Linked DNA regions of Homo sapiens: regions 1 and 3 are each linked to region 2. Evidence: fine-mapped expression QTL. A gene starts in region 2. Each other region holds a variant in brackets. All regions are shown on one strand. Distances are from middle to middle.

Region 1 (10,519 bases), 65 kb after region 2:
GTTTCTCACAGCTCAAGGCCACATCCCTAAGTTGATCCTAGCTCACCTTAAAGTGCCTGCTTAAGAAAACTCAAAGCTGCCGAAAGAATTAACTGTTTGTTCCAGCGAACCCCTGAACACAGGGCCCTGACTCCCAGTCTCTGTGGGAGGGTAAGAGTCTTACTTCAAAAAGCACCAGTTAGCAAACCCAGAGGGGTTTCACATCAACCACTTTCCGCTTTTTGTAATTTTTCACATTCCTGACTCTTCTAAGTCTAGGCTGGCCTTCTCCCTATTCTCCCATTCACGCTGTGAAATGCCTAGTCACCTTTGCACAAATCCAAGTTGAGTTCAGTTCACATGGGACCCTTTTCCCTATTGTGATAGTATATTACTGTTTAACATCTATCCTTAAAGTTCTAACTAATGCCCAGCTTTGTTTGTCTTTAATACTCTTTACATAACCCATTTCAGAGTCACAACCTATCAAAGTACCATCTGAAATGGAAATAAAATTATGTGTTTGGCCTCTGAACTAATTATGGGCAAGCCACTTGTGAGCATAGCTTTTATTTGACTACCGGGTCCAGGAAAATAAGGGGAAAATGCACAAGTTCCAAACCTAGAAAGGAAACATTTAAATGTACTGGAGGACCAGAGCAGCCTGCTGGGCTGTGAGCTCCTGTTCAGGTCCAACCTTGAGCAGTACTGCATGGTGGAAACAGCCTGGGCTTCACTGGAAGCCAGGAGACCTGGGTTTGCCTATTTAAAGCTGTGTGACCTAAACGTTGGTTTCCTCATTTATGAACCATGAGCCACAGTGCCTGACTCATAATTGATGCTTCAAAAAAAGTACATATGTTTAAGCTCCCAGACTGGTTAATCAATGTTTCAGCAGCCAATTAAGTGACACAGGGTATGTTTTGTTTCAGGGACAAGCATAATTTATTTCTGTGTTATATATCATGTCACAAGCTGAACCACAGAAGCTGCCTGTCTACCCTCGGCCCTTTCTCACTGACCAGACTGCTGAACCCATCTGGATCATGCTGGCTTAAACTCTTCGTTTGTATCCTATTGTGGGTCATGAACCCCTATGAGAATTTGATTAAAATTATGAACTCGCCCCAAGAAAAATGCATGTACACATAAGCACACAAAGTTGGCATACAATTGTGAGGGGTTCACAGAGTCCCTGAAGTATATCCTCAGACTCTGGCTGAAGGCCCTGTGTCTAAACCATGGCCTGCAGAGGGCAACAGGGCAGCTGGAGTCCACATTGAGAGCTGCATTCAGGAAAGCTGGGGACGCTGTAGAATTTGATGAGTTTTTTGAAGGCACTTTTCTTCAGCATCATCATGTCTTCTGGAAACCTGGAAAAGATTCTGACCCTGGAGGAGCCCCCATTCTTCACAGAGGCCTCTGTGGGCAGTGGCTTCTGAGCACTCACTGGCACACTGTTGCAACTGAGGGAGCGCACCGTCTTCTTCTTAGTCTGCACAGACAAGTAACTGAACAGGAAGGAGGACAGCTTGTGCTTGGTGGCATCTGGGGCCTCTTCTGAAAAGCAGTCATCAACTGGGTCCAGCAGGGTTTCAAGATGGAGGCCATTTTCCCTTTTCATGGGACCGGCTCCCACACGCTGAGGCTGCTTGATGATCTTCCTGGCCTGGACTGGATCATCTCCTGCCCCACTGACAGACTGAAGGGACGTTCCACAGGCCCAGGCTCTGGCACCCCTGATTTGGGAGATGAGGTTCCCAACCCGAGGGCTGGGTTGGGAAGTACAGTGCTGACTCAGGATGAGAGTGGCAGCATCTCGAATGAGATTCCAGTCTCTCAGGATGTCATCCCTAGTGGTAAACTGGGATGTCACAGTGAAACGGATGATTAACTTGTCCTGGATAGTGGCCGGGATGAGGAAGAGACGGCCAGCTTTAGCTATTTCCTTTAACACATTTTCTGTGAGACAATTAGGACCCTGTTTGAAAAATAAAGGAAGTGAAGTCTCCATCGCACCCCCTGTCAGCATCCCCAGAGCCCAGCATTTGTGTTTCCGAGAGGCTCTGGAGCACCACAAGACATCATTCACAGAGGGGCTTGGAAGATGGTATTACCTTTAGACGAAAAACCACCAGGCCAAGGTGCCTCTTGGCAGGAATTTCAAAGGAAGGGTCGTTTCTGACCAGAGATTCAAAATATTTAGCCATTTCAGTACCCTGGAATTGCAAGTATAAAGAGAACTGAGATTAATCATCAGACAAGAGACTATGCATAAACTTTCAGACTGCTAAATGGTTTTAAACCAGGGCCATCTTCCCGTCACAGCCGTTGTAAGCGGCTTCTGCCTCATTGTCATCTCCATTTGATTTTGCTCATATTCCAAGCTGGAAAATTTCCAATGGCGCCCTGTTTCCTGTCACATGGGATCCACCTCGAGAACTCATCTCAGGGCCCTCTTTCAACTCAGCCCCAGAACCCAGAAGGCATGTGCTTTGCAGTCCAGGCAACCCGGCCTCAACTCCTGATTTCACAGCTCCTTGACTGGCCAAGTGGGCAAGTGAGGGCCAAAACCCAGTCCATGCTCTGCGTTCCCAGCCAGGTGCCTCATGCGAGCTGCGTGTGCCTAAAGGAAGAGATGCCTGTTTGTAGTGCACATCAAGTTGCCATATGGGCTAGTGGCGGCCCTGCCCCATCCTAAGCCTACATGCTTCACTTGCCTCTCAAACCTCTTCTCACCCTGTACCCCAAATGCCCTTTTCATCCCCTGTTTCTGACATTCCATAGAGAACATATTTTCACATCTTGTCTCCACCCATCATGGAAAGGTTTTGGACCTGGTTAATGGATACAGAGTTTCTGCTCGGGATGATGAAAAAATTCTGGAAATAATGGTGATGGTCACACCACATTGTGAGTATTCTTAATGCCACTGAATTGTACACTTAAAAATGAGTAAAATGGTACATTCTATGGTATGAATATTTTGTTACAATTTTAAAATGTTAAAGGCTTTGTATTATATTAATCTTCCACTGAAGTTCATACCATCTTTTTAAATGTCCTGGGGTTTTTTGCTTTTTGTTTTTAACCCAGGATTACTAACTAAACAAGGACAGGACTTGCCTTCTCTTTTCTTTTTAAAAATTTCTCCAAGCATCCAGAAGATCTCAATAAAATATTTGCTAAGTAATTCTATCAGTTAGTTCTCATACTTACTGCTCTATTTCAAGAGAGGGCAAGGGAGTTAGCTGAACCTCTTTTTTTTTTTTTTTTTTTTTTTTTTGAGAGATAGGGTCTTGCTTTGTCACACAGGCTAGAGTACAGAGGCATGTTGCACAATCAAAGCTCACTGCAGCCTTGAACTCCTGAGCTCAAGTAATCCTCCCACCTTCACCTCCTGAGTAGCTAGGACTACAGACATGCACCACCATGCCCAGCTACATTTTTTAATTTTTTTGTAAAGACAGTGGTCTCACTAGGTTGTTCACCCTGGTATCAAACTCCTGGGCTTAAGCGATCCTCCTTCCTAGGCCTCCCAAAGTACTGGGATTACTGGCATGAGCCACCATGTCTGGCCCTGAGCCTGTCTTTTGACCATAATGAAATGAGTTTCTCCAAATCTTTCTCAGAGCCCCTTTCTCCCCTGCGTGGTCAGTTTCAAACAGCACAGGAGTTTTGACCTGCTCCATTTCTAACCTGGGCCCCTTCACCCCTCCTTAGGCAACCTGGTGATCCCTTGCTCCTGGGAGGTCACCATATTGATGCCGAACTTAGTGCGGACACTCAATTGGCATAGCACACCATAGCCCAGAACTCCCACCTGGGCTATGGTGGGAGCAATTGAGCTTCCCACCTCAGCCTCCCAAGTAGCTGGGACTACAGACACGTGCCCCTGTGCCCAGCTCAATCTTTCCATTTTTTAGAAGGAACCAAGGGAAAGTGACTTTCCCAAGGTACAAGTGACAGTAGGTAGATCTCCTCCCACTGTGCTTTTATCCCTCCTACAACACATGCTGTTTGCAATAACAGAAGCAGAGGTCAGGGGAGAGGAGAATACAGAGCACAGGCAGCACTGCCACCTCCAAAGCCCCACTTTACAGGTCATGAAAGCAGAGCTGCTGCCAGTGCCCTGCACCGCTCTAGGTCAAGGGCAGGCACAGTGCAGCCATGGCCAAATATAGCCCCCACCTGTGTTTGTAAAGTTTTTTGGAACACAGCATTCCCATTTGTTTACATATTGTCTACGGTAGCTCTTGTAGTACAGAGGTAATTACAATAGAGTATGGCCCACAAAGCCAAAAGTATTTAGTATCTGGCTTTTTACAGGAAATGTTTACCAATCCCTATTGTAGGTGATAGGAGATGAGGATGATGATGATGATGATGGTGATGATGATGACAATTTATTATAATTAGATGAAGAAGGAGATGATGAAGAAGGGGAAGAAGAGAAGAGGAAGAGGTACTCATTGAGTACTTAACTGAGTAGTAGGTAGACCCTGTGCTAAGGGCTGCATATATATTATCTCATTTAATTTGAGAGAGGTAGTATCCTTTTCTCATTTTTATAAATTAGGAAGGCATGGCCAGGGGTGGTGGCTCATGCCTGTAATCCTCGCACTTTGGGAGGCCAAGGTAGGCAGATTGCTTGAGCCCAGGAGCGTGAGAACAACCTGGGCAACATGACAAAACCCCATCTCTACAAAAAATACAAAAAGTAGCCAGGCATGATGGTATGCGCCTGTAGTCCCAGCTACTCAGGAGGCTGAGGTGGGAGGATCACCTGAGCCTGGGGAGGTCAAGGCTGCAGTGAGCTCTGATGGCACTACCGCACTTCAGCCTGAGCAACAGAGACCTCATCTCAAAAATAAATAACAATAAATAAATAAGGCAGACAAATATAGAAAGGTTAAGTAATTTGTCTAAGGTCATCAAACAGTAAAGGGTAGAACTAAAAATCCATTCTTTAAAGCACTTCTCTGTAACACAGAAATATGAAATTTAATTTTATATAACTTTCCAAGAGCTCAGTGTAGTAGAAAGCAGCCCAGAACTATGAAGAAAGGATTTGGAATTGGGAGGCTTCAGGGAAAGTCCCGGGCCTTCTTCCCTCAAGCAGGGCAATTACTCCCTCTGAGCCTTGCCAGGTTAGAGTGACCACCCCAGGCACTGTGCTAAGGATCTAATGAAGAACTAGAATTTATTTTTGTATTGAAGGCATTACGCAAGTGTCAATAATTATCATCACCGTCAAGTTGAAGAGATAAAATCAAATCATATCAAACAACTTTATTTTAATTCCATTTCTTCTATTGTGGGACATTGGAAGAACTTTGAGCACAGTTTTGTAAAGGTGTTTGAGTAGGTGATCACAGGAATGCTAATGAAGCAGAAACCAGAACAGATGGAATAGGCAGAAAAGCTTCTAGTGGAAGCAGAATTTAATCCATTCACAACATTTGGAGAGGAGAGGGTAGTTCAGGTGAAGGACACGGGTGAAGGTGCAGAGATGGACTGAGCATGAGGTCTGGATGGGTCGATGAAATGCCCAAGCTAAGGTAGGAGCTAATCGTCAAGTCCTTGAAAGCCAGGCCCAGGAGTGTGGGCCTCATATGGTAGGCAATGGGGTTGCTAATAGGAGGAATTCAGGGGTTTGATTTGCAAACAGAAGTGCTAAGGGAGGTTAGTCAGGATCTGCACATTGAATATCCAGTCCCAAACTGTAAGCAAAAAAATGTTCCTAATTACTTGTAACCTCCACCAACCATTCCCCGCCCACAACCCTCCAGTCTTGAGTCTGCATTTCTAGAAACAGCACAAAGTGCCTAAAGTTCCTCAATATTGTTGGTGGCAGCTGCTCATTGGTAAACAACCAGTGGTGATTACAAAGGTAAAATTACCAACATTAAAACCAGTCATAGGAAACTGGAGAACATTATGTTAAGCAAAATAAGCCAGGCACAGAAGGACAAATTTCACATGTTCTCACTCAAACGTGGGAGTTAAAAAGTAAGCAAACTGAGCTCGTGGAGACGCACAGTAGAATGATGGTTGGCAGAGGCTGGGAAGGGTAGCAGGGAATGGGGGATAAAGAGGTGATAGTTAACGGGCGCAAAAATACAATTAAATAGATCTAATGTTAGGCGGCACAATAAGGCAACTATAGTTAACTATAATTTGCTGTACATTTCAAACTAACTTAAAGAATGGAACTAGAATGTTTCTAACACAAAGAAATGATAAATGGTTGAGTGGTGGATACCCAGTTACCCTAATTTGATCATTGCACATTGTATGCCTGTATCAAAACCTCACACATACCCCATAAATATATACGTAATTATTATGTAAGCATAATAATTATTTTTTTTAAATGTTAAAAAAAATCATAGTTACCGCTTCCACCACTTCATTTTGGTTTGTGTTTGTTTAACCAAGAAGGAATTCCCTAGAGGAAAGGTGGAAGGACAAAGACACACATAGGCAGAAAGGACAGTGTCTTCAGCTTCCCCCACTACTTTTATCAATGGCTTTGTCTTGCATGTGGACTCTTGTAGAAGTGGGAGAACAATGCCAGTGGCCAGAGTTCTTAGTTAAGTCCCGCTTCTTCCATGAAGAACATGGGAGAGAGGCTGCACCTGTCTCATTTACCTCTGTGTCCCTTTCTTAGCACAATACCTTGTAATTGTTGAATTGAATAGAAATAAATTAAGCAAAATAGGCCTTCAATAAATGCCTGTTGATGCAGGGAGGTTTGTTCCAGACTTGGTAGGTCTACCTGTCCAAGCCAGGGGAGCTTTATTTCAGGCATAATCATAATAGTGCTAAAATATTCAGCCAGCTGTGACCATTGAGGTAATTCCAAAGCAGATAGGATCCTACCCTGGCCACACACACTTCCCCTTGATTTACTTTCTCTTTCT[CTT/C]TCCTGCAAACCAGACTCTGGGGCCAACCCTCCCCAGTGCTCAGTGACAGCAAGGGGAACGGTGAGACACTCAGCAGAGGACAGGCATCAGGCAGCCCTCAGGGCATGTTGTGCTCAGCGCTCCTCTGGTTAACAAAGAGAATCAAGTCCCAGGAGCTGAGGAACAGGCCCAGACACCTGAACCACACACCGCAAGTCTCCTAGGCAGATCTGCAAAGTAGAAACCAGCCTTCCTCGCCATGAGAAAACAGAGGAACACAGGCTCAGCCCCCACAGCAGCATGCTACATACATGTCTGACATGTGCTTGAAGATTCTTCACCCCGAAGGACCGAATCACGAACCAGAGTTTAACAGAGCGAAACCGTCGGCTCAGGGGGATCTGCCAGTGCTAGAAACAAAGGAACACAGTGCCCAAGGTTAGAGACAAGGGTGCCCCACTCCCTCGGGCATTTCTGGGCATTATCTGTTGCCTGCCCAGCCCTCCAGGGATGGACGATGTCACCATGACTCTGGGAGCTGTTGCTAAGGAGTAAGCCAAGCTCCCCAAGGGTTGCCCCATCGTGTGACCAAATCACTGATGAAGGTGGCCAATAGTCACTTGTCTGAGAGCCAGACAAGTGGAAGTCAAGTCCATTACCCTGAACCAATGAGAAGGGCACTTTGCTTTCAAGTGCTGCTTTAAACATTTCATCCCGGCCCAGAAACTCAACATAAGGGAAATACATTTTTACTCTAAATGAATCTTTATTCCTTGAATAGCAGAAAATAAAGTTCTATTTTTATTCCTCCCAAAATGTAAAGTATGGTAGTTAGAGCACAGACACTAGAGCCCTGCAGACCTAGGTTTCGCCTCCAGCTGTGCCACTTACTAGCTGTGTGACCTTGGGTAGTGCCACCTCACTGGCTCATCAGTCCGGGACATAAAGAACCAATTGCACCTCCCGGGCAAGTGGTGTGAGGACAAAGAACGCCAAGAGCCTCAGAAGAAGTTGTCAGTAGGTGTTGGCTATTTAGATTATTTTAAAATGTGAGCTACAAATCACAGTAGCATTTCTGTCTAGAGCCAAGATGACCCCTATTTAACCTTACACTGCCTTGTTCATTTTCCTGTGAGATTCCTGTGATCTGAGAGCCATCACTCCAGCTGTCAGATTTCAAATGAGCACCCAAATTTCTGCCGCTGTTAGATGAAAATTGACTCTTTGCTCCTGGTGGCCAAATTCAACAGAGCTTAAAGTTCAAGGTTGCAGTCACCATACATCTGAAAATTTCCAAATCAATTTCAGACTGATTTCTCAGATCTGAAAATAGAGCAGAGGATTTGGAAAACATTTACAGTTATTCTAATGAGTCACGTGGTTTCCTAATGACATCTCCCTCAAACGTCAGAAAGTTTCTACCACAATTTCTGTTGACTAAAAATAAATGTTTGTCCCACTGCGTATTTATCTGCCCATACACAAGATTATCAAATCCTCACAAATGTCCTCACCTTCACCCTTCACCCCAGTTTCCTGAGCCAGGCACAGTTGGGATGTTACCCCTTTGTTGATGGACAATGTTTCCCCAGCAGAAAACTACTAAGCCTTTGATTTCCAAGCAAAACTCTGTTGTGCTGGGGAGCAGCTTGGGGGCTTTTGTGCCAGCAGAAGGCATCAAAACCTGAAAATGGAACAAAATTGCTGTAACAAGGAAAGTGTCAACTCCACCTCTTGTCCAATGGACACTCCAAGAGAATAATGAACGGATGATAGGGATCATCTGTCAAAAGGTTCTGGTTTCCAGATAGTTATAGCCAATTTATTTCATATATAGAGAGAGCTACTTTATTTTACCAGCAAATAAACCAGGATAGGCAGAGGTGATTTTATTTTGATTTCTTCACAATCTTCCTTATTCCCAGTTGCTCCTTTTCTTGTCACTATTCCAAAACTGATCCATGCTGACTCAGCAGAGTGGTTCTAGCCAACATTTTCTGTTGGATCAAAAAATCTGGACGTATAAAGCCTGACAGGGCTCTTCTTTACCTTGAGGCATCTCCAGCCTCCTCTGTGTCCTTGTAAGGTCCTTGCAGGGCTCCCTTGCCAAGGCTAAGGTAACGCTCCCTCCACTGGTGCTCTCTGTCCAGTGAGAGGCAGAAAACAGGGAGCTTCTCCGCTGTCAGAGAATCTAGCCCTGATTTTAGGTGATTCCAGGACCCCAGGGGTTAAGCACCTAAGTCTTCTCTCCTGGGATGCTGCCCTGTTTCTGGCTCATCTCAGAGCAGGACTGAGCTTCTGTTCAAAGCTGCAGCCACCTGGGTGGGAAAGACATTGGGCCCAGGTGAGAGTAGCTCTGAGGACCCTCAGGATCATGAAAAAGATAGCAACTTCACTTTTCTAGGAGTTTCTTCATGGACTTGAAAATCAAATCCATAGGATTAAAGGTGGGGGAAGGGTAAGTGTAAGGCAGTGCCTTCTGGGTGGAGAGGTAAAAATAATAAGGTTCCCCAGAGCAGGGCTGGGAAGAGTTTACTCTAACATTTTTATGAGTTATCTGGAAGACAGAGAGCACTGTAAAATCTCCAAACTCCTAGGAATGAACCCCGGGAAGATCCTGAGGCACTGTGGTAAATGAATTTAAACGGTAACATGAAATTCAAAAGGGCAAGGGTGAATATAATGCTCCTCAGTTATGATGACCCAAATACACTCATAGGAGAATGGGCATCAATTCACACTCAGGAAGCAAACCTACAGTTATCCCTAAAGATATCTGACCCTTGGGCTGTTCTGGAATTTTTTTAATTTTTCATTAAAAATCTCTGAAAACCTACCAGAAAGAGCAGTGGAGATAAAGAACCATTATTTTTCTTTCTTTCTTTACCTCTAGAGGGTCTTCTGTCACCACCAGTAAGCCGTGAGGCTTACCGCTGCAATTCTAATCCAAAAGCTTCAAATATCTAAAGAGGGTGTGGACTGGTCCAAGGGAGAATAGCCAGTATAATCAAGTGATGACGAAGCTATTATTTTAAGACTAAAAGGGCAAGACACTTCAGTTGTCCAAGAAGATAAGATAAAACCATCTCTTCACAAGGAAGGATGCTTACAGGGGTCAGACACTGCTCTCAGCACTTCAGTGTATTAATTTGTATAATCCTCACAGCAAGCCTAAGAAGCCAGAACTGTGGTCATCAGCCTCATTTGACACAAGAGGAAATCTGGACACAGAGTTTAAGTCACTTGCCCGAGGTCACACAAGTTAGTAAACAGAAAGCCAGGACTCCAACACATGCCATCTGGCTTTAGCACCTACATGCCTAACCACTGTCCTAACAAATCTCTGCAGCTTCAAAGAAGAGCTTTCAGAAATACTATGCCTACCATATATTGAGCACTTGCCACACGGCTATTTTGCTAGGTGATCCACACGTGTTCCCATTTAAGCTTCACAATACCCTATGAATCAATGCCACTATTCTCATTTTACAGATAAGGAAAGCAAGGCTCAGAGAGGTCCAGTTAGTTTCCCAAAGGGCCACTGCTGGAATGGAATTCCAAACCAAGCTTGCCCCCACTCTGCTCTGCTGCCTCCGTTGGCCAGGTTATGTGTAATACATTCGTTTACATCC
Region 2 (10,519 bases):
ACAAGAAACTCTTCTACACTGCTAGTGGGAATGTAAACTAGTACAGCCACTATGGAAAACAGTGTGGCGATCCCTTAAAGAACTAAAAGTAGAACTACGATTTGATCCAGCAATCCCACTGCTGGGTATCTACCCAAAGGAAAAGAAGTCATTACTCAAAAAAGATACTTGCACACGCATGTTTATAGCAGCACAATTTACAATTGCAAAATCATGGAACCAAGCCAAATGCCCATCAATCAATGAGTGGTTAAAGATACTGTGATATATATAGTGTGTACATATGTATCGCAGTATATATATATCATAGTATAGAGAGAGTGTATATATATACCGCAGAGTATATATATATATATACCACAGAGTATATATATAGTGTGTATATATATATACTGCACAGCATATATATATACACTATATATAAACATTGTGTATATATACACACACAATGGAATACTACACAACCATAAAAAGGAATGAATTAACAGCATTTGCAGTGACCTGAATGAGATTAGAGACTATTATTCTAAGTGATGCAACTCAGAATTGGAAAGCCAAACATCGTATGTTCTCACTGACATGTGGGAGCTAAGCTGTGAGGATGCAAAGGCATAAGAATAATACAATGGACTTTGGGGACTTGGGAAGAGTAGAAGGAGGGCAAGGGATAAAAGACTACAAATCTGGTGCAGTGTATACTGCTCAGGTCATGGGTGCACCAAAATCTCACAAATCACCATTAAAGAACTTGCTCATGTAACCAGATACCACCTGTACCCCAATAACTTATGGAAAAATAAAATATTTTTTAAATTAAATTAAAAAATAAAAAACAAAATAAATAATAAAATCCAAAAAAGAGTACATTGTGACTGGGATGGAGAGTATGTGTGTTGCAGTGGGATATTGAAAGAAGAGAGAGAAAGCTGTTGAAAAAATACAAACCAAATCTGGAGAATTAGCACACATATTAGCACTAGAAACAATGATGATTTCATCAGGAGTTTTCCCTGAGTTAGAATTCAACACCTAATCAAAGACATTCTGGTCAGAACTAAAGAGGGCAAACATCTTTTTCTCAAATTATAAATTGTCCTGACTGTGTAGCAAGCACAACTGGGATGCCAATGCAAGGGTTTCCTGCTCTGTCATGTCTAATATCAATAATCAGTTGTTCTCAGTCTCACCTTTTTTTCATTCTCCAAAAAGAGGGTCAATCTTATCACATACCACCTCCATCAAACCCTTGCCATTTTGTTGGCTGAATACCTGCACATCCTGTATGCCTATACTCAAATGGTACCATGCTAGACAGTCAATAGGATGACAGGCACCCACATTTCAAGAAATGTGATTAACTTATGGCAACAACAGTCAGAGATTATTCTTCCCACAAACCACTGAATGAGTCAGTCACACAAAATTTCTATTTGTACCAAGTATGTAATGTCACAAAAATTGCAAGCTTCATAATCTATACTTTTTTGTCAAGAATGGCCCTGTGCATTAGGTGCCTCAAATTCTACAAAATTAACACAAGTCACTGTGAGAGCTCAGTACACTTCTCAAAGCTACTCAGCCAATGCATGACAGATAAAGACTCAAAATCAGGTCTTCTGGCTTCAAGTCTCACAATCTTTTCTATTACTTCATTCCAGGAAATTGAATTCTAGTTACGAAGGCAAAACTAACAGGTAAGAAACAATCAAAAGCCCACCTATGCGATGGGTTTATAAGTTCAGTACAAGGGCTGGATCAGCATGGGCTGGAAGATTTAAAGGAAAATGTTTGGGAATACTTTTTTTCACATGAACTCTACATGGAAGTGTAAAACAAGTATATGAGCTGTTTTGATTGGAGCTAGGGTAGGATCCTCCCAGAGCCCCTTTCCCACTCTATGCAATGAACTCTCCTCAGTAACTTCTCAGCCACTAGGGCTCTACCGAGTAGTTTGGAAGCCAATGGACTAAATCAGTAGTTCTCAAAGTATAGTCCCTGGACTAGCAGTGTCAGCAATACCTGGTAACTTCTTAGAGATGTGAATTCTTTGAATCAGAAATTTTGGAGATGGGGCTTAATAAACTATATTTTAGCATGTTCCCCAGGTGATTCTCAGACTTGTAAAGTTTGAGAAATAGTGAACTACTTCATCTCCATAAAGTAGGAAGGGACGCCACCTGCTTTAAAAGAACATTTGAGATTGGGATTGGAAACTTTGAAGGGGGTAGGGAAGGTCTGGGACTGCCAATAGGAAGCCTTCTCTCAAATAGCAGAGATAGATGATAGGGATGAACGTCCTGACCAAGGCTAGAAGGTGTCAGTATGCACACCCAGTAATCCTGTCTTGCCCCTAAACTTCTCCTGCAATACCTAGAATAGGACAGAAGACAGTGGGCATTTGAGGTCATCTATACCTGGATAGAAAGTTTAAGGAAAAGAGGGGTCTAGGAGGCCACGTTGAAGTGACTGGCCAGGAAGGGACCGAAATCTTGATAGAGGAAATGAATAGGCTCAGTAATGTCAGAGAATGGGAGAAGTGGAATGAGGAGGCTTAACTAAGCCTATGGGGACGGAGAATCTCCATGTCTGAGATCTCAGTGCTGACAAAATCCTAAATTACATCAAAGTCCAAGATCTGGCTCTATTTCATATTTCCCTGTGGAATTTATGTTACTGAATAGACAAACTTGTATAAAAACAATTTCTATATGGTATAAAAACCCAGACAAAAGTTGCAGTTTTCTACATTCAAAAATATTTTTAATGTTTTTATTTTTATCTGTTTGTGAGAATTTGTAAGATTATTTTGTTTTGTTTTTCATATGAGATGGGGTCTCACTGTGTTGCCCAGTCCAGTCTTGAACTCCTGGCCTCAAGTGATCCTCCTGCCTCAGTCTCCCGAGTAGCTGGAATTACAGGTGCATGCCCCCACACTTGGATAATTTCTGTACTTTTTATGTGTTGGTGTAACATTGTCTTCGTCTTTTCTTGGAAAGGGCTATATGTTTATTGTTACTGTCTTTAAAATTGTGGTAAAATATGCATAACATAAAAATTAACTATTTTAACCATTTTTAAGTGTACAGTTCAGGTATACTTTTTTAGTGCCAAAAATGTCATTCTTCTATAAAATAACAAATATACTGTGATGGGGGAGGGGGTTGTTCTTACTAGAAAAATTAAGAAGTCGTTACTTATTTTGAGTCCCTAACTTGGTTTCGAAATATAACACGGGACTAAGAAATTCAGGAATCAAACAACTACTGCCCTAAAGGAGAGTTGAGATTTACAGGGTTAGGATGGTCAGGGGTGGAAAGTGGTAAGAACAAGCCAGTAGAAAGAGGAAGGTGCAGGGCATTTTTAGGAGTGTGCAGACCAGACTTGCTAAAAACAAAGTGCGCTTGAAAAGGAACAGTTAGAATTAAGTTTTGGTCCATTTTAAAATATTTAATACCTAATAATGTTTGGTTCATAGCAGAAACTCAATAAATATTTGTCAATTGAGTGTAGTGAAAGCTTGAGTGAGATTCAGAAGAGCCAGAAAATAAAGTTTAAATTTCATTTTATAGACCAGAGGTTCCCAAGAGATGTACCAAGAATGGGCAGCCAACGTGCTAAGCTATCGATCACCTTTCAAAGGAGTCAGGCAGAAGCCAGGGCATCTGGTCAACTCTAGGCCAGGTATGTTCTAGTATGCTGTACAAGTACAACTGTCTATAGATGTCATTGGTGGAAGACAATAGGAAGCAATGGGGAACCACTAAAGATAATTGAGCAGTGGAGATATAAGATGGCAGCAATATTTCCAGGAAGACTATTGCTGTGGTTTTAATGTTCATGTCCCCTACAAAATTCATATATTGAAATCCTAACCCTCAATGTGATGGTATTAGGAGGTAGAGCCTTTGGGGAGTAATTTGATCATAGGGCAGAGCCCTCATGAATGGGATTAGTGCCCTCATAAAACAGGCCCCAGAGAGGTAATTTGTCCCTTCTACCAAACAGTACACAGTGAGAAGGCACCATCTGTGAGAAAGTAGCCCTTCACCAAACACCACATCTGCTGGCACCTTGATCTTAGACTTGCCTCCAGAAGTCTGAGAAATAAATTTCTGTTGTTTATAAACTACCCAGCTTACAGTATTTTGTTATAGCAGCCCAAACAGACTAAGACATCTATTAACCTCGTGATAAAGCAAGAGCTGGATCCCAGGCTCAAAGCTGGAATCACTGGGACTCCCAAGGTATATATTATAGACATTTGAAAATTACTTCCCCAAATTTACTCTCCCTAACCCCACTTTTTAATAATACCGTAAAACGTTCCACAAAATGGCCTAGGTGAAATTGATTATACTCTCACCCCCATGGGTGAGCGCTGATTGGCTTAAAACAACTAGCACCTTTTTCCCCAGGACCCACAGACATTGGTTCAGAAATGGGCGCATAATCCAGTCAGGGATTTTTTTTTTTATGAGAACTCCTAAGAAAAAGATTCCTGTACTTCTCTCTGAAGTTGAGCCAGAAAGCATGTACCCCTAAGGGCTGTTGGCAGCCATCTTTGGACAAAAACCAGAGAGCCTGAATGAGAACAGAGGAGGTGCAGAGGAGAAATAGTGAAAGCAAAACTAGATCCAGGTGTCAGCATTTAAAATCCTTGATGTCTTAGCCCCGGACTCTCCAGTTACTACTTAAATTCCTGTTTCTGCTTCAGCTAGCTTGGGTCTTGTTTTCTTTTACTTGTAACTGAGGTTAAAGTGATCCTCAGAATAAGAGGGGAAAAAGTGGACCCTTGTGGTAATCTAGCACTCTGGGTAGACAGTAGCTGTTCAAGGAAAAGAGAAGAGGGGTGCAGGTGGCTACACAGAAGCGATTAGCCATCAAGGGACGAGGGTGGCATTGGGATGAAAAAGGAAGGGCTGGCTCTGAGCTTCACCATGAAAGAAGTGCACATGAGAATGGTTTCTGTCGGGCCCTCACTTTGGTTAATTCTACTGCTTTCTCCTCAGGGATGATGAAGGCCCCCAGCTCATCCCCAGGGAAATGATGCAACCAGGTAGCTGGATCAGAAATGAAAAAGTCAGGAAAAGGGAAAGGTTGCTTGCGCAGTTACTAGGGATACGAAAAGGAGGCTAAAAAACGGCAGGGGGTGGCCTGGAGGGAATGTGAAACATTTTTGTGTGTTTTACACACACCGAAAAAAAAAGAGGACATGGACAGAAACCTAGAGAATAGGAGGACAGCATAGTATAGTTACTAAGAATAAGCTAAGAGTTGGTTCCCCGGGACCAAACAGATACCATTTCCAAAACCCACGAATTACTTACCGGCTGTCTCAATTCACCTAAGCTTCCCTTTCTTGTCTGTAAATGAGCATGAAAGTGCCACCTGTATAAAATAACTCAGGCTCCCAAAATGTAACATAGGGAAGCTCCTAGCAGCGTGTCTGGGAGGAATAAGCATTATCTGTATTTATCGTATCAAATTAAGATAGAGGAACACAGGAGGACAGTAGAGGATGAAAATAAAACACTACTTAGATCCTGACCCTCCTCAGTGGCAAGTAGTGAGCATTCACTTCGTACAGAAGTAGCACTAAGGCAAATTAAAAGAAAGGTTCACATTTCCTCTAAAAGAAATGGTTTTTGAGTCATGCCAATACCACTTACTCAATGTCCTCTGTACTATACTATTCTCTGACAGAGCCACTTATTAAATGTGTGAACTGTGCTGACAACACTTGACAACTTTCAACATGAGGGAACAGCAGGATCACTTAACAGAACAAAATCGTAAAATAATGTCAAAGCTTGATTTCAGGTGGTGCGGTGTAGCACTGCTCTTCACGAAATCAGGACTCCCCCGACCAGGCAGGGCCGACTAGGTTAGAGTGTCCTGCCCTCACTCACCTGGCAGGGCTTGGGATGAGCTGGACGTGACTGCCACAGGCATTTCTGTTCAACCTTGAAGCCTTCGCTACAGGAGACCGCCTGGCAGTCGGGCTGGGAAGCAAATCTGAGAAACAAAGAGAGACCAGGCGGAAAGCCCTTGGGACCAGGAAGGAGAGATGAGATTCTGGTTTGGCAGTGGCACCTGGTACCCGCTATTAATAAATAATAGGACTGTCTGACATTTATAAGGCACTTTATCGGTAATAACAGTGTCATCTCCATAAGCCATTCTATTAGTGGTAACAAATAATAGCCCCACGCCTGCAATATCTCCTTTAATATTCCCAACGTCCGCTAAGCGCGTCTCATCACCATTTAAAGAAACCGTGGCTCCTAGAGGTAAAGTACTTCGGTCACAACGCGAGGAGGTCCAGACTTGACCCCAGACCTCCAGACTCGAGCTGGGAAGTGGCCGAGGCTCCTGGTGAGCCGCAGGGCAGCCTGCCCAGCCCCGGGAGGACCGCGTGGGAGGGCCGGGAGAGCAGGTGGCTGCCCCCCACAAGGGGGCGGGCTCAGCCGGCCAGTCCTGCCCGGAACCCCCGGCAACGCGCATACGACTACACCTGCTCCGGAGCCCGCGGCGGTACCTGCAGCGGAGGAGCTCTGTCTTCCCCTTCATCTCACGCGAGCCCGGCGTCCCGCCGCGTGCGCCCCGGCGCAGCCCGCCAGTCCGCCCGGAGCCCGCCCAGTCGCCGCGCTGCACGCCCGGGGTGAACCCTCTGCCCTCGCTGGGACAGAGGGCCCCGCAGCCGTCATGCTTTCCGCCATCTACACAGTCCTGGCGGGACTGCTGTTCCTGCCGCTCCTGGTGAACCTCTGCTGCCCATACTTCTTCCAGGACATAGGCTACTTCTTGAAGGTGGCCGCCGTGGGCCGGAGGGTGCGCAGCTACGGGAAGCGGCGGCCGGCGCGCACCATCCTGCGGGCGTTCCTGGAGAAAGCGCGCCAGACGCCACACAAGCCTTTTCTGCTCTTCCGCGACGAGACTCTCACCTACGCGCAGGTGGACCGGCGCAGCAATCAAGTGGCCCGGGCGCTGCACGACCACCTCGGCCTGCGCCAGGGAGACTGCGTGGCGCTCCTTATGGGTAACGAGCCGGCCTACGTGTGGCTGTGGCTGGGGCTGGTGAAGCTGGGCTGTGCCATGGCGTGCCTCAATTACAACATCCGCGCGAAGTCCCTGCTGCACTGCTTCCAGTGCTGCGGGGCGAAGGTGCTGCTGGTGTCGCCAGGTGAGCCCCGAGGATCGCCCTGCCCTGGCACCAGGGCTTCTCGGCGCCTTGACTGACGAGCCACAGCGTGGCATAAGGGGTTCGCAGAGGGAGGTTCAGATCGGAACTGTAGGTATAGAAAAAGGTTGGCAGTGTTTCCTTGAATCGCAAATAATGATCTTTTAGGACCACCTGTTGTGGAAGCTGATAATGTGCTAGGTTCTGTGTTAAGCACTCTACAGGCAGTGTGGTTTTTAATCCTCACAATGGGTAGGCTTTGTTATAGGACTTTTATAGATGAGACCACTGAGGTCCTGAGAGGTGAAGCCTCATGCCCAGCCATCTATCTCCAAATTCCAAGCTCTTAATCAATACTTATAACATCTGCATTAAAATGCAGAGGATCTTGAGTGCGAACTCTAGTGGATCCAGAGGGGCTCTTCTCACCTCTGCTGCTTGACTGGCTGTGTGATCATGGGAAAGTCACTTCTCCTCTCTGTCCCTTGGTTTGCTCCTCTCTAATGAGGCAGGCTTCAATGTTGCTTCCAGCTCTCAACTGCTGTTAGCATCCTGTCCCCTCCCTGCAGAACAAAGGTGACCCCACCTGATCCCCAGGGAGAAGATACTGGGGATCTGCTACAGGACCGTTGTGAGCCCCCACTGCATCTATCACAATAGTGACCCTTTCAGTTCTGTGGTTAGCTCCTGCCACATTTCAGCCAGACTTGAAACAGTAACTTAAGTGATGACAAGGTCAGGAAGTGACAGAGAACCTGTTACTCACAGGGCTGATGGCTTTCCCCTCCCAGAGAGCTTGTCTCTGCACTTGAATAAGGACCAAGGGTTCCTTCTCTCAGTCAGTAAGAAGAGGCCTACACAGGAGTGGGCTGAAAGACCTGGGTGACAGGGTAGGGGTCGAGGGAGCCGAGGAGCCTCAGCTTTCTAGAATGCATTTCTGTGCTAAGCCCTATAGTAGATGCTTTTATTACCCCGGGAGATAACATATCACTATCCCCACCACCACCACCACCATTATACAGTTGAGAAAACTGAGGCTTAAAATTCCAACCTAGCTCTATCCAACTTCGAAGCCATGCTCTTTCCTACATCTTTTTTTTTTTTTTTTTTGACAGTCTCGTTCTGTTGCCCAGGCTGGAGTGCAGTGGCGCTATTTCAGTTCACTGTAACCTCTGCCTCCCAGGCTCAAGCGATCCTCCCAGCTCAGCCTCTCAAGTAGCTGGGACCACAGGCATGCACCACCATGCCCAGCTAATTTTTTGTTATTTTTGGTAGAAACAGGGTTTCACCATGTTGCCCAGGCTGGTCTCAAACTCCTGAGATCAAGCGATCCACCCACCTTGGCCTCGCAAAGTGCTGGGATTACAGGTGTGAGCCACCACACCCAGCCTCTTTCCTACATCTTATTGTTTTCCTCTGCATGGATGTAAACTGTTAAGTGTGCTGGAAGGGATGAAGTGTCCACTTGCTCTACCCCTTCATTTCATAGCTGGGGAAACTGAGGCAAGCTAAGCGGGTTACAGAAAGATGAAAGGTTAATTCACTTGTGAGAAACCAGGAATCTTACACACCTGCTTCATGTGGCATGAAATAAATAATCCAAAAAATATAGGCTTTGTATAAAAGTTTAAAAGCAGAAAGCCAAATTTTAGGCTGGGCGCAGTGGCTCAAGCCTGTAATCCCAGCACTTTGGGAGGCCGAGGCAGGTGGATCACTTGAGGTTAGGAGTTCAAGACTAGCCTGGCCAACATAGCAAAAACCCCGTCTCGACTAAAAAAAAAAAAATTAGCTGGGCATGGTGGCGCGTGCCTGTAATCCCAACTACCTGGGAGGCTGAGGCAGGAGAATCACCTGAACCCAGGAGGCAGAGGTTTCAGTGAGCCGAGATCATGCCACTGCACTCCAGCCTGGGGGACAGAGTGAGACTCCATCTCAAAAAACAGAATAAAAAAAAGACAAGTTTAAAGGTGGCTAAATTATTTGGAAGAGATGGTCCTTTCAAGAAAATTCCCATTAATTTCTAGCTGCCTGAGAAAAGCGATAACTTCACTACTTTGTAACTAGAAGACTCTCCTAAGCCTATTACTTTACCAGCTTGCTTGGAGGGAAATTATTAACACAGTGATCTTTGTACCACTTCAGGAAGCATTTAAATTCTGTTTATCACTTTAGTATCCCAGGTCCCCTGAGAGGGAGGTCACAGGGTTTGGAGTTTTGTTGACAAAGAAGTTCAGGATTAAATGACCATAATACAGTTTGATTCTGCAATAAAGTCAGAATTACAACCAGATACCCTCTTCCCACCCAGCTAACAGTTGTCTGCCATAGAGCTATGTGTTTACATAGAGAATATATGGGAATTTCTATATTAAACTCAAACGTGAACCAGACTTTACAGTGGACCTAAGGCACTCTCTGGACCGTCAACTGACCTCTGAGGGAGGCCACATATTTGAAAAAAAATCAGTTTTTCCAAATCACTGAGATACCTTTGCACATGAAGCAAAATTACAGTCTGTCACAGAGTTGCATGTTTACTAAACATGCCCATGGGAAAATATGTTGAATGGACTGATTCTTAGAATTCTTTGGTGTTGGAAGGGACCTTAGAGATATTCTAACCCTATAATCCTGTAAGTTTAATGAATGTGTTATACTTTAAAAAAAAAAGTTTACAGAAGAAACTTTAATAAGCCCAAGAATCACCTAGGAAGCTTACTTTTTTTTTTTTTTTTTTTTTTTTTTGAGACGGAATCTCGCTCTTTCGCCCAGGCCAGGCTGCTGTGGCGTGATCTCGGCTCACTGCAAGCTCCACCTCCCTGGTTCACGCCATTCTCCTGCCTCAGCTTCCTGAATAGCTGGGACTACAGGCACCCGCCACCACGCCCGGATAATTTTTTGTATTTTTAGTAGGGGCAGGGTTTCACCGTGTTAGCCAGGATGGTCTTGATCTCCTGACCTCGTGATCTGCCGGCCTTGGCCTCCCAAAGTGCTGGGATTACAGGCGTGAGCCACCACGCCTGGCCGGAAGCTTACTTTTAAAAACATTCTGAGGCTGGACACTATGGCTCACTCCTGTAATCCTAGCACTTTGGGAAGTGGAGGAGGGAGGATCACTTGAGCCCAGAAGTTCGAGACTAGCCTGGGCAACATGATGAAACCCCATCTCTACAAAAAAAAAAAATACAAAAATTAACTGGGCATGATGGTGAGCACCTGTGGTCCCAGTTACTGGGGAGGCTGAGGTGAAAGGATTGCTTGAGCCCGGGAGGTTGAGGCTGCACTGAGCTCTGACTGTGCCACTACACTCCGGCCTGGGTGATAGAGTGAGACCCTGTC
Region 3 (10,519 bases), 29 kb after region 2:
GAGAATCACTTGAACCTGGGGGGCGGGTGTTGCAGTGAGTCGAGATGGCACCACTGCACTCCAGCCTGGGTGACAGAGCGAGACTCTGTCTCAAAAAAAGAAAAAAAAATAGAGCAAGACTCTGTCTCAAATATATATATATAAAATACATATATATGTATGTGTGTGTGTATATATATAATATATATGTATGTGTGTGTATATATATGTATGTGTGTATATATATATACTTGAGACAGAGTCTCACTCTATTTATACATATATTTAGTATATATATAATATAATATATATATATATTGCATGAAATCTCTTTCCCTCTCCCCTCCCTCCCTCTTAGGACTTCATTTGAATCTCTTACTGCAAGCTAACTTTTATTAAAATGACCTTTGTATGAGTCTTCTCCTCCATAGATTGGAAGCCCCTATCGAACAAAACCATGTCTTACTAATTTTTTGCATTTGAATATAAGGTACTCAATACTTGTTTGCAAATATAATTTATTTTTAAATTTCTACCGTTCAAAGTTGACAAATTAAACATAACTGGGAGAATTTTTTCCACCATTTCTTTCTTGACACTTTCTGTGCTTTCTCTGTAGGTGCTACTCTTGCCTTGCGGACTAAATTTTCAGCCAGCCAGTTTTGGGATGACTGCAGAAAATACAACGTCACTGTCATTCAGTATATCGGTGAACTGCTTCGGTATTTATGCAACTCACCACAGGTAACACTCCCCCCGTTTTACTATCATTTTGAAATGGGTAAGATGGAAATTCAAGTCACTTTGGGTTGTGCTAGGCTTCAACTGATTTGCATATATCAGTTTTGAGTTTAGGATACAATTATCATGATAAAGTACTTGGCACTATACCTACCATATAGAGGGGACTTAGTAGGTGGGAGTTAATATTATTATTATGATGATGATTATTTCCTGCCTTTTTACTTGTTTTCACATCTTACTCCCCACCTAGCATATCCTGCATTTCCCCCTCTGCTTACTAAAAGCCAGTGTCAAAGCCCAGTTCAAATGATACCTCATACATTAAACATATTTGGGTCACTCCAACAAAAGTCATTACTCTTCTCCCCTACGTCATTTTATTTCTACCCTCTGTGGCCCTTGTCATGTTGCAGGAGTTTGTGTTCATGTCTCCCATCCTTCCTTGGCTGTAATATCTTTGATGGCTGGAACCACATCTTGTCTCCTTGTTTTCTGTTATACCGAAGGCATACAGGAAACTTTTACTTAATGCTGTTTAACAAATAAATCTCTGTGTGACTTTGAAACCAGCCAGCCAAGTCTGTCACCAAGCTGGGAACAGATGCCCCAGGGCATCTCCAATGGCCTTGGATCTGCCCTGTTTGCAGATGTTCAGCTCTCGATGGGGTTGTTCTCAAGAGCTCCTCCTGCCCAGTCCCTCAACTCTCATCAGAGATCTGGTATCAGATAGGATTTATCAATGGTGGCACTGCTGACATTTTGGGCTTTTAATTCTTTGCCGCGCGGACTTATTCTGTGCATTGTAGAGTGTTTAGCACCCTTTGGACTTTGCCCACGAGATGCCAGTAGTAACCTCCCCACCTCCCCAGGTCATGATCATCAAAATGTCTCCAGAAACTGCCAAATGTCTCTTGGCAGGGAAATGCTAACCTAGTTGAGAACCACTGTACTAGACAATGCAGTAAACTCACCAGATTCTAATCCCTTTCACCAGATTCTAGTTCCTTTATTCAGTCAGTTTAAACTCAAAGGATCACTAAGTTGATAAATTGCTATTGATAAGCACCTGTTGTACTCACCTAACATACCAGCTGCCGTGTGACGCAGAAAGAAGTGTCAGATGCTCTTCCCCCAGGTCTCTCTCACCTCACTTTACTCAGTCTCTGCCCAGATGTTGCCTCATTAGAAGACAGGCCTCTTCTGCTAATAATCAAACATATCATCTGCCCCTCACTGTCCAGCTTGTCACTGCATTTCATGGCACCTGTCACTCCTGACATAGTAAAGGTTTATGTGATTATTGTCTGCCCCCCCTCGCCCCAATTAAATGAAAGCCGCATATGAGCAGGGGCTCTGTCCACTACCAGATCTACGGCACCAAGATCTGTAAATGACACATCATAGGCATCAACAGATTTTGTGGACTGAACCTCTAAATCCTTGCCCCTGAAAAATGTGTAGTTGAGTTGAGGGAGCTAAAATGTTTCCCCAAAATGTTTGGGCTTAGCACATATTATTCTGATTTTTTGGCATATTCAATAGATTCTCGAGGATCATCATTAGCAGTGAGTTGGGTTAGGGTATTTTCCACAGCAGTTCTGTTCATGTCATTATTGAATTTTTTTCACATTAATATTCCACGTGGCCTCCAAGATAGCATGTCTCTCTATTAAAATCCAGAAATCCATATGGGACCCTTCTGCTGGGCTTTTCTTCTCTACCTTAAAGGCACTCCTTTGTCAGTTAGAAAATCTCCTGGGGAGTGTGTGTTGTTTCTGTATGTTCTAATGGGAGCTTCCTTTGGACTGGACGAAAATAAATATGTTTGTGTGTAGCTGTCTTCAGGCCCACACATATCCACATATACACATGCACACATACACACATGCATGCACTCTCCCAGTTTTTCTCTTACTGTTGTCTCAAATACTGGAAAACAAAGACAATTTCACTGGGGTTTTACAACTTCAAAATATACTATGATTTAATGCATAATCTTGAATGACCCCTGGACTTCCTATTTGCCAGTGCTTCCCCACCCCTGAGTTCTGTTTGGAAAATATTTATAAAAAGTATAATAAAAGATCAAAGTTATCTCAAAAAAAAACCTTCAGTTAAAGATTTTTTTAAATTATAGGTCATCAGTCCAGGCACGGTGGCTCATGCCTCTAATCCCAACACTTTGGGAGGTAGAGGCGGGCAGATCATTCAAGGTCAGGAGTTCAAGACCAGCCTGGCCAACATGGAGAAACCCAGTCTCTACTAAAAATACAAAAATTAGCGGGGCTTGTTGGCACGTGCCTGTAATCCCAACTACTCAGGAGGCTGAAGCAGGAGAGTCGCTTGAAAGCAGGAGGCAGATGTTGCTGTGAGCCAAGATTGCACCACTGCACTCAAGCCTGGGCGACAGAACAAGACCCTGTCTCAAAAAAAAAAAAAAAAGGAAAGAAAGAAAGAAAACAATCATATGTCATTAGACAAGCAGGAGATCTATGCAAATTTTTTTAAATTTAATCATAGGTCATCATAGGAAGTAGAAAGTACAGATTGTATGGGATGTAGGGAAAGATTATATCAAAAAGACTTTGCAAAAAAAAAAAAAGAATTGGATAAAAACTAGAATGAATGGGGGAAGGGCCTGGATCAATGTAATCAGGAACTTCTTCACCCTTAGAGCTGCCTAGAATACGCTGTTGCTGGAGGGACTAACCCCACCAGCGACCCCCAAGCACTGGATGCCAGGGAGGCAACCTCTGCCTTAGCAGAACAGCTAAACCAAGTGACACCCATCCACAGACATATATGGCCCAGCTCATCAGGAGAATCTGGGGCCAGTGTTGGGAGGTAGAAGCCACTGTGCTTCTCTGCCCTCTTCTTAACCATATTCAGTAGCTTCTCTAGTAGAGCAGTGGGCTATGGAGAATGCTTCCAGCCCTGCTCAGGTCAGTGGTTCAGATTTGGCCCCAGGTACTTAAAGTAATGCTGAGAGCAAGTACTCTGGAGTTAGTCGGCCTGCATTCTGACTCTGGCATTGGAGCAGGATAGTTAACCTCTCTAAATCTCAGCTTCCCGTCAGCCAACAAGGAGATAATAGTACCTACCTCACATGGGGTCTATGAAGACAACCTGAGATGATATATATAAACCACATAGTAGCTGGAACTTAGTAAATTCTCAACACATGTTGCCATTATTATCATTATCACTTTCCATGCCTAACAGTGTGTAGCTCATAATAAGTACCCCATACATATTTGTTGAATGAATCAATGAAAATTCTGCCCACTTACACAAAGGAAGAAATAAGGGAAAACATTCTACTTAGTTAATCACTCTCATCTGAGGTTGAGTAGGGGATGGGATAGCAAAGCTACTGACTTAAGTGATTTTTAAAATATTATAGTGAATATTTTCTATTTTGCCGTCTTCCCGCATTGTATTTGGGCCTTTGCTTTCAAAGCGACTGTTTGTAATGAAAGGCCATTCTGATTCATTTCTTGCAGTGTATGGTTGTCAGCTCCCATTCGGTTTTTGTAGTTGCCTAAAAACAATGTCATCTAGGGAAAGTTATTTATTGGAGCATGATATTGCTAAAGCTCAGTGTTTCTTTCCTCCAGTTACAGACTGAAGCTACAGTCTGTACTGGACAAGGCTCCAGTACAGGGGTCTCAATGAGGCTTTATGACACCTGCTGGAGTGTGGGAGGAGGAAGACAGAAAGGGAACCAAAAAAGAGTTCCAGGGGCCACACATAGAACCATGATATTTGGAAGGAGAAATAATATTGGCCAGAACCCTGAAAAAGCTGAATAGATTCAACTTACCTCTAGTGTTGACTGCGTCCCCCCAGAATTAGATAACCTCTGTGGTCCCTTCTAGCCTAAAATTTCTGTCTCTGCATCAGCTTCATTCTGTTCAAAAAAGAGAATGGATGGATCTGTTGCAGCACAGAGTGGAGAGTGGCCAATATGACTGGGGCCCAAGACAGAGGGAGGCCAAAAGAAAGAGGGAAGGGGAGCAGAATCAGGAAGGTTCGCCAGGGAAGGTGGGCTTTGAAGAGTACGGAGAAGTTCTGCAGCCAGGCAAGAAAAGAAGGGCTTCTGGCTAGCAGGAAAATCACGTGAGCAGTGAGATGAAGGACCCAGCACACTGGGAACTGCAAGCAGTCTGGCAGGAGGTGAAGCTGAGGGGCTGGGTCAGGTGGCAAGGGCTTTACTCTGCTGAGACTCAAATGTGAACATGACAAGCCATGACTAAAGGGCCTTACATGGAAGAGCAATGTGGGAGATGGCATTTTTAGACAGTCCTTTTGGCTACGATGTGAGAATACACAGAAGGATGAAGGGCCTCTTCTGTAAAGCAAACAGGTGGAG[C/G]CTTGTCCAGGCAGAAGTGTAACATATTAATTATTAAGAACAGGGACTCTGGAGTTTTTCTAAGGTGATAAAGACCTTCTTCCCTTTCACCTCTTGGAAGTCACCCCAAAACAAGGCGATGAGAAAAACACACACAAGCACCATCATCTCAGAAACTAAGAGACATTGCAACCATGAACTACATAGTATAGGAAGCTAAAAGATAACAGTGACTGACATAGTAGGCTGAGAAGGGTGAAACTTAAGAGGCAAGTCCCAACAGGAAGGAAGCCAGTTGCCTTCCTGAAGGCTGAGAAATTGCAGGCTTTGAATACAGCTGAAGGTGGGATGAAGTGTCAGACTTAAAACAGGGGAGTTATTTGAAAATCTGTGTAAGAAGTAAAATACGGAGGACAGGATCATGGCGAGCGGGAGGCAGGACTAGATTGTGGCTCCAGACAGAGCAGCATGAGAGGCTCACATTGTGAATTTTAGCTCCAGCTTGACTGCAAGAACTAACCAGCAACCCCAAGAGGACCCACAGACCCTCTGAAAGAAGTGGATTGCTCCTAGAGGACCCGGGAGACACCCCAAATACTGTGATCGCCCCAACTGCAGAAGTGGGAAAGGGAGACCCTCATCTCCCGAACACATACTGGAGAAGCTGAAGGTCTGTTTGTAGAACTTCCCGACTTTACCTGGAGCCTCGTCAAGTTAGAGAGCCAAACCGAGCAAAATACAAAGGTAGAGGAAGCTGCAGAAAGGCCCTGGGAGCTCACTGGCTCCCCTAGCAGCCCATTCCCGCCTGGCACCACAGGGATCCATCAGGAGGGTGGCCAGAGGAGCAGGGGGCAAAACTCCACAGGGAGAAGGAATTCTCTAGCTAAACTTTGGGATAATTTGAACGGGGCAAGAAGACTCCTGGCCAGAACTCCAGGGAGGGTGTGAATCTGGCTTGCAGACTCCACAGGCGGAGAAGAACTAAAGCCCTTTCTTTAACAGCTGGGAGGCAGAAAGCCTTGGGCAAGTTTTCAAGCCTGACTCGCCCTCCACCTGGAAACAGACTCGGGGCCGTTGAGGGGGCACGGTGGGAGTGAGACCAGCCCTTCAGGTTGCCTGGAAGCTGGGTGAGGCCTGTGACTGCCAACTTTCCCCCACTTCCCTGACAACCTGCATGACTCAGCAGAGACAGCCATAATCCTCTTAGGTACACAACTCCAGTGACCTGGGAATCTCGCCCCCATCCCCCACAGCAGCCACAGCAAGACCTGACCAAGGAGAGTCTGAGCTCAGACAGGCCTAGCCCTGGCCCCACCTGATGGTCCTTCCCTATCCACCTTGGTATCAGAGGACAAAGAACATATAATCTTAGGAATTCTAGGGCCCTGCCCACTGCTGGTGCCTGTCCACACTATTACAGCTGATGCTTTCTGGAAAGTACCACCTCCTGGCAGGAGGCCAACAGCACAAAACAGGGAATTAAACCACCAAAGTTAAGGATCCCATGGAGTCATTGCATCCTCTGCCACTTCCACTGGAACAGGTGCTGGTATCCATGGCTGAGAGACCCATAAATCATTCACATCACAGGACTCTGTTCAGACAACCCCCAGTACCAGCCCAGAGCCAGGTAGACTTGCTGGGTGGCTAGACCCAGAAGAGAGACAACAATCACTGCAGTTCGGCTCACAGGAGCCACATCCATAGGAAAAGGGGGAGAGTATTACATCAAAGGAACACCCCATGGGACAAAATTCTGAACAACACCCTTCAGCCCTAGACCTTCCATCTGACAGAGCCTACCCAAATGAGAAGGAATCAGAAAACCAACCCTGCTAATATGAAAAGCCAAGGCTCATCAACATCCCCAAAAGATCACACTAGTTCACCAGCAACGAATCCAAACCAAGAAGAAATCCCTGATTTGCCTGAAAAATAATTCAGGAGGTTAGTTATTAAGCTAATCAGGGAGGAACCAGAGAAATATGAAGCCCAATGCAAGGAAATCCAAAAAAACGTTACAAGAGTGAAAGGAGAAATATTCAAGCAAATAGATAGCTTAAAGAAAAAAACAGGGCCAGGCATGGTGGCTGAAGCCTGTAATCCCAGCACTTTGGGAGGCTGAGGCAGGCAGATCACAAGGTCGGGAGATTGAGACCATCCTGGCTAACACAGTGAAACCCCTTCTCTACTAAAAATACAAAAAAATTAGCTGGAGTGGTGGCAGGCACCTGTAGTCCCAGCTACTCGGGAGGCTGAGGCAGGAGAATGGCATGAACCTGGGAGGCAGAGCTTGCAGTGAGCCAAGATCGCGCCACTGCACTCCAGCCTGGGAGACAGAGTGAGACTCTGTCTCAAAAAAAAAAAAAAAAAAAAGTAAATGAAAAAAACAAGCAAAAATTCAGGAAACTTTGGACACACTTTTAGAAATGCTAAATGCTCTGGAAAGTCTCAGCAATAGAATTGAACAAGTAGAAGAAAGAAATTCAGAGCTCGAAGTCAAGGTCTTTGAATTAACCCAATAAATAAAGACAAAGAAAAAATAATAAGGAAATATGAACAAAGCCTCCAAGAAGTCTAGGATTAAAAGACCAAACCTAAGAATACTTGATGTTCCTGAGGAAGAAGACAATTCTAAACACTTGAAAAACATATTTGGGTGAATAATTGAGGAAAACTTCCAAGCCTTGCTAGACCTAGACATGCAAATACATGAAGCACAAAGAACACCTGGGAAATTCATCACATAAAGATCTTTGCCTAGGCACATTGTCATCAGGTTATCCAAAGTTAAGACCAAGGAAAGAATCTTAAGAGCTGTGAGACAGAAACACCTGGTGACCTACAAAGGAAAACCTATTAGATTAACAGATTTCTCAGCAGAAACCCTACAAGCTAGAAGGGATTGGGGCCCTATCTTCAACCACCTCAAACAAAACAAGTGTAAGCCAAGAATTTTGTATCCAGCAAAACTAAGCATCATATATGAAGAAAAGATACAGTCGTTTTCAGACAAACAAATGCTGAGAGAATTCGCCATTACCACGTTACCACTACAAGACCTGCTAAAAGAAGCTCTAAATCTTGAAACAAATCCTGCAAACACATCATAACACAACCTCTTTACAGTATAAATCACACAAGACCTATAAAACAAGAATACAAGTGAAAAAGCAAACAACAAAAAAACAAAAGTTCACAGGCAACAAAGAGCATGATGAAAGCAACAGTACCTCACATTTCAATACTAACATTGAATGTAAATGGCCTAAATGCTCCACTTAAAAGATACAGAACTGCAGAATGGATAAGAACTCACCAACCAACTGCTGCCTTCAGGAGACTCACCTAGCACATAAGGACTCACATAAACTTAAAGTAAACAGGTAGAAAAAGGCATTTCATGTGAAAGGACATGAAAAGTGAGCAGAGGTAGCTATTCCTATATCAGACAAAACAAACTTTAAAGCAACAGTGGTTAAAAGAGACAAACAGAGACAGTATAGAATTGTAAAAGGCCTTGTCCAGCAGGAAAATATCACAATCCTAAATATATATGCACCTAACACTGGAGCTCCCAAATTTATAAAGCAATTGCTACTAGACCTAAGAAATAAGATAGACAGCAACACAATAACAGTGGGGGACTTCAATACTCCACTGACAGCACTAGACAGGTCATCAAGACAGAAAGTCAACAAAGAAACAATGGATTTAAACTATACTTTGGAACAAATGGACTTAACAGATATATACAGAACATTTCATCCAACAGCAGCAGAATACACATTCTATTCAACAGCGCATAACTTTCTAACTTTCACCAAGATAGACCACATGGTGGCCCATAAAATGAACTTCAATAAATTTAAGAAAATTGAAATTATATCCAGCACTGTCTCAGACCACAGTGGAATAAAACTGGAAATTAACTCCAAAGGAACCTTCAAAACCATGCAAATACAGGGAAATTAAATAACCTGCTCCTGAATGAGCATTGGGTCAAAAACAAAATCAAGACAGAAATGAAAAAATTCTTCAAACTGAACGACAATAATGACACAACCCATCAAAACCTCTGGGATACAACAAAGGCGGTGCTAAGAGGAATCTTCATAGCCCTAAACGCCTGTAACAAAAACACTGAAAGAGCACAAACAGACAATCTAAGGTCACACCTCAAGAAACTAGAGAAACAAGAACAAACCAAACCCAAACCCAGCAGAAGAAGGGAAATAACCAAGATCAGAGCAGAACTAAATGAAATTGAAACAAACAAACAAACAAAAAAAAAGATAAATGAAACAAAAAGCTGGTTCTTTGAAAAGATAAAATTGATAGACCATTAGTAAGATTAACCAAGAAAAGAAGAGAAAAAATCCAAATAACCTCACTAAGAAACAAAACAGGAGATATTACAACTAACACCACTGAAATACAAAAGATCATTCAAGGCTACTATGAACACCCTTACGCACATAAACTAGAAAACCTAGAAGAGCTAGATACATTCCTGGAAAAAATACAACCCTCCTGGCTTAAATCAGATTAAATCAGAATTAGATACCCTGGAACAGACCAATAACAAGCAGGAAGATTGAAATGGTAATTTAAAAATTACCGACAAAAAAAAGTCCAGGACCAGATGGATTCACAGCAGTATTCTACCAGATGTTCAAAGAAGAATTGGTACCAATTCTTTTGACACTATTCCACAAGATAGAGAAAGAAGGAACCCTCCCTAATTCATTCCATAGAGCCAGAATCACCCTAATACCAAAACCAGAAAGGACATAACCAAAAAAGAAAACTGCAGACCAATATCCTTCATGAACACAGATGCTAAAATCCTTAACAAAATACTAGCTAGCCAAATCCAACAACATATCAAAAAGATAATCCACCATGATCAAGTGGGTTTCATGCCAGGGATGCAGGGATGGTTTCACATATGCAAGTCAATAAATGTGATACAACACATAAACAAAATGTAAAAAATCACATGATAATCTCAATAGGTGCAGAAAAAGCATTCAACAAAATCCAGCATCTCTTTATGATTAAAACTCTCAGCAAAATCGGCATACAAGGGACATACCTTAAAGTAATAAAACCCATCTATAATAAACCCACTGCCAACATAATACTGAATGGGGAAAAGTTGAAAGCATTCCCCCTGAGAACTGGAACAAGACAAGGATGCCCATTCTCACCACTCCTCTTTAACATAGTACTGGAAGTCCTAGCTAGACCAATCAGACAAGAGAAAGAAATACAGGGCATCCAAATCAGTAAAGAGGAAGTCAAACTGTCACTGCTTGCTGACGATATGATCATTTACCTTGAAAACTCTTAAGGACTCCTCTAGAAAGTTCCTAGGACTGATAAAAGAATTCAGCATAGTTTCCAGATACAAGATTAATGTACACAAATCAGTAGCTCTTC

Which allele goes with the higher level. Positions count from the first base shown, and alleles are read on the strand shown. Sizes are in standard deviations (SD) of each study's normalised expression. Not every link is listed here.
As copies of G replace C in region 3, the expression in esophagus mucosa of the gene that starts at base 6,474 in region 2 goes up (large effect, 0.80 SD a copy in GTEx).

Evidence for each region.
Region 1: its variant is fine-mapped to the expression of SLC27A2 in whole blood (TOPMed, PIP above 0.99). The same link has a PIP of 0.9 or more in T cells and blood mononuclear cells.
Region 3: its variant is fine-mapped to the expression of SLC27A2 in esophagus mucosa (GTEx, PIP above 0.99). The same link has a PIP of 0.9 or more in sun-exposed skin and unexposed skin.

The regions. Positions count from the first base shown.
Region 1 is chr15:50,241,047-50,251,565 of GRCh38, forward strand. It overlaps HDC (histidine decarboxylase), which reads right to left. Exons shown (of 12, transcript NM_002112.4): 10 at 7,199-7,297; 11 at 2,097-2,198; 12 at 901-1,960. The coding sequence ends at 1,214. It also overlaps the pseudogene RN7SL494P. Among named protein-coding and RNA genes, the nearest start is that of HDC, 19 kb to the right of the region's middle. The variant CTT/C (reference allele first, on the strand shown) is at 6,906.
Region 2 is chr15:50,175,723-50,186,241 of GRCh38, forward strand. It overlaps SLC27A2 (solute carrier family 27 member 2), which reads left to right and starts at 6,474. Exons shown (of 10, transcript NM_003645.4): 1 at 6,474-7,183. The coding sequence starts at 6,706. It also overlaps a transcript of ATP8B4 not described here. RefSeq lists silencers at 6,366-6,705, 6,976-7,075.
Region 3 is chr15:50,204,641-50,215,159 of GRCh38, forward strand. SLC27A2 (solute carrier family 27 member 2) reads left to right here. Exons shown (of 10, transcript NM_003645.4): 4 at 599-723. Among named protein-coding and RNA genes, the nearest start is that of SLC27A2, 28 kb to the left of the region's middle. RefSeq lists an enhancer at 6,117-6,696. The variant C/G (reference allele first, on the strand shown) is at 5,096.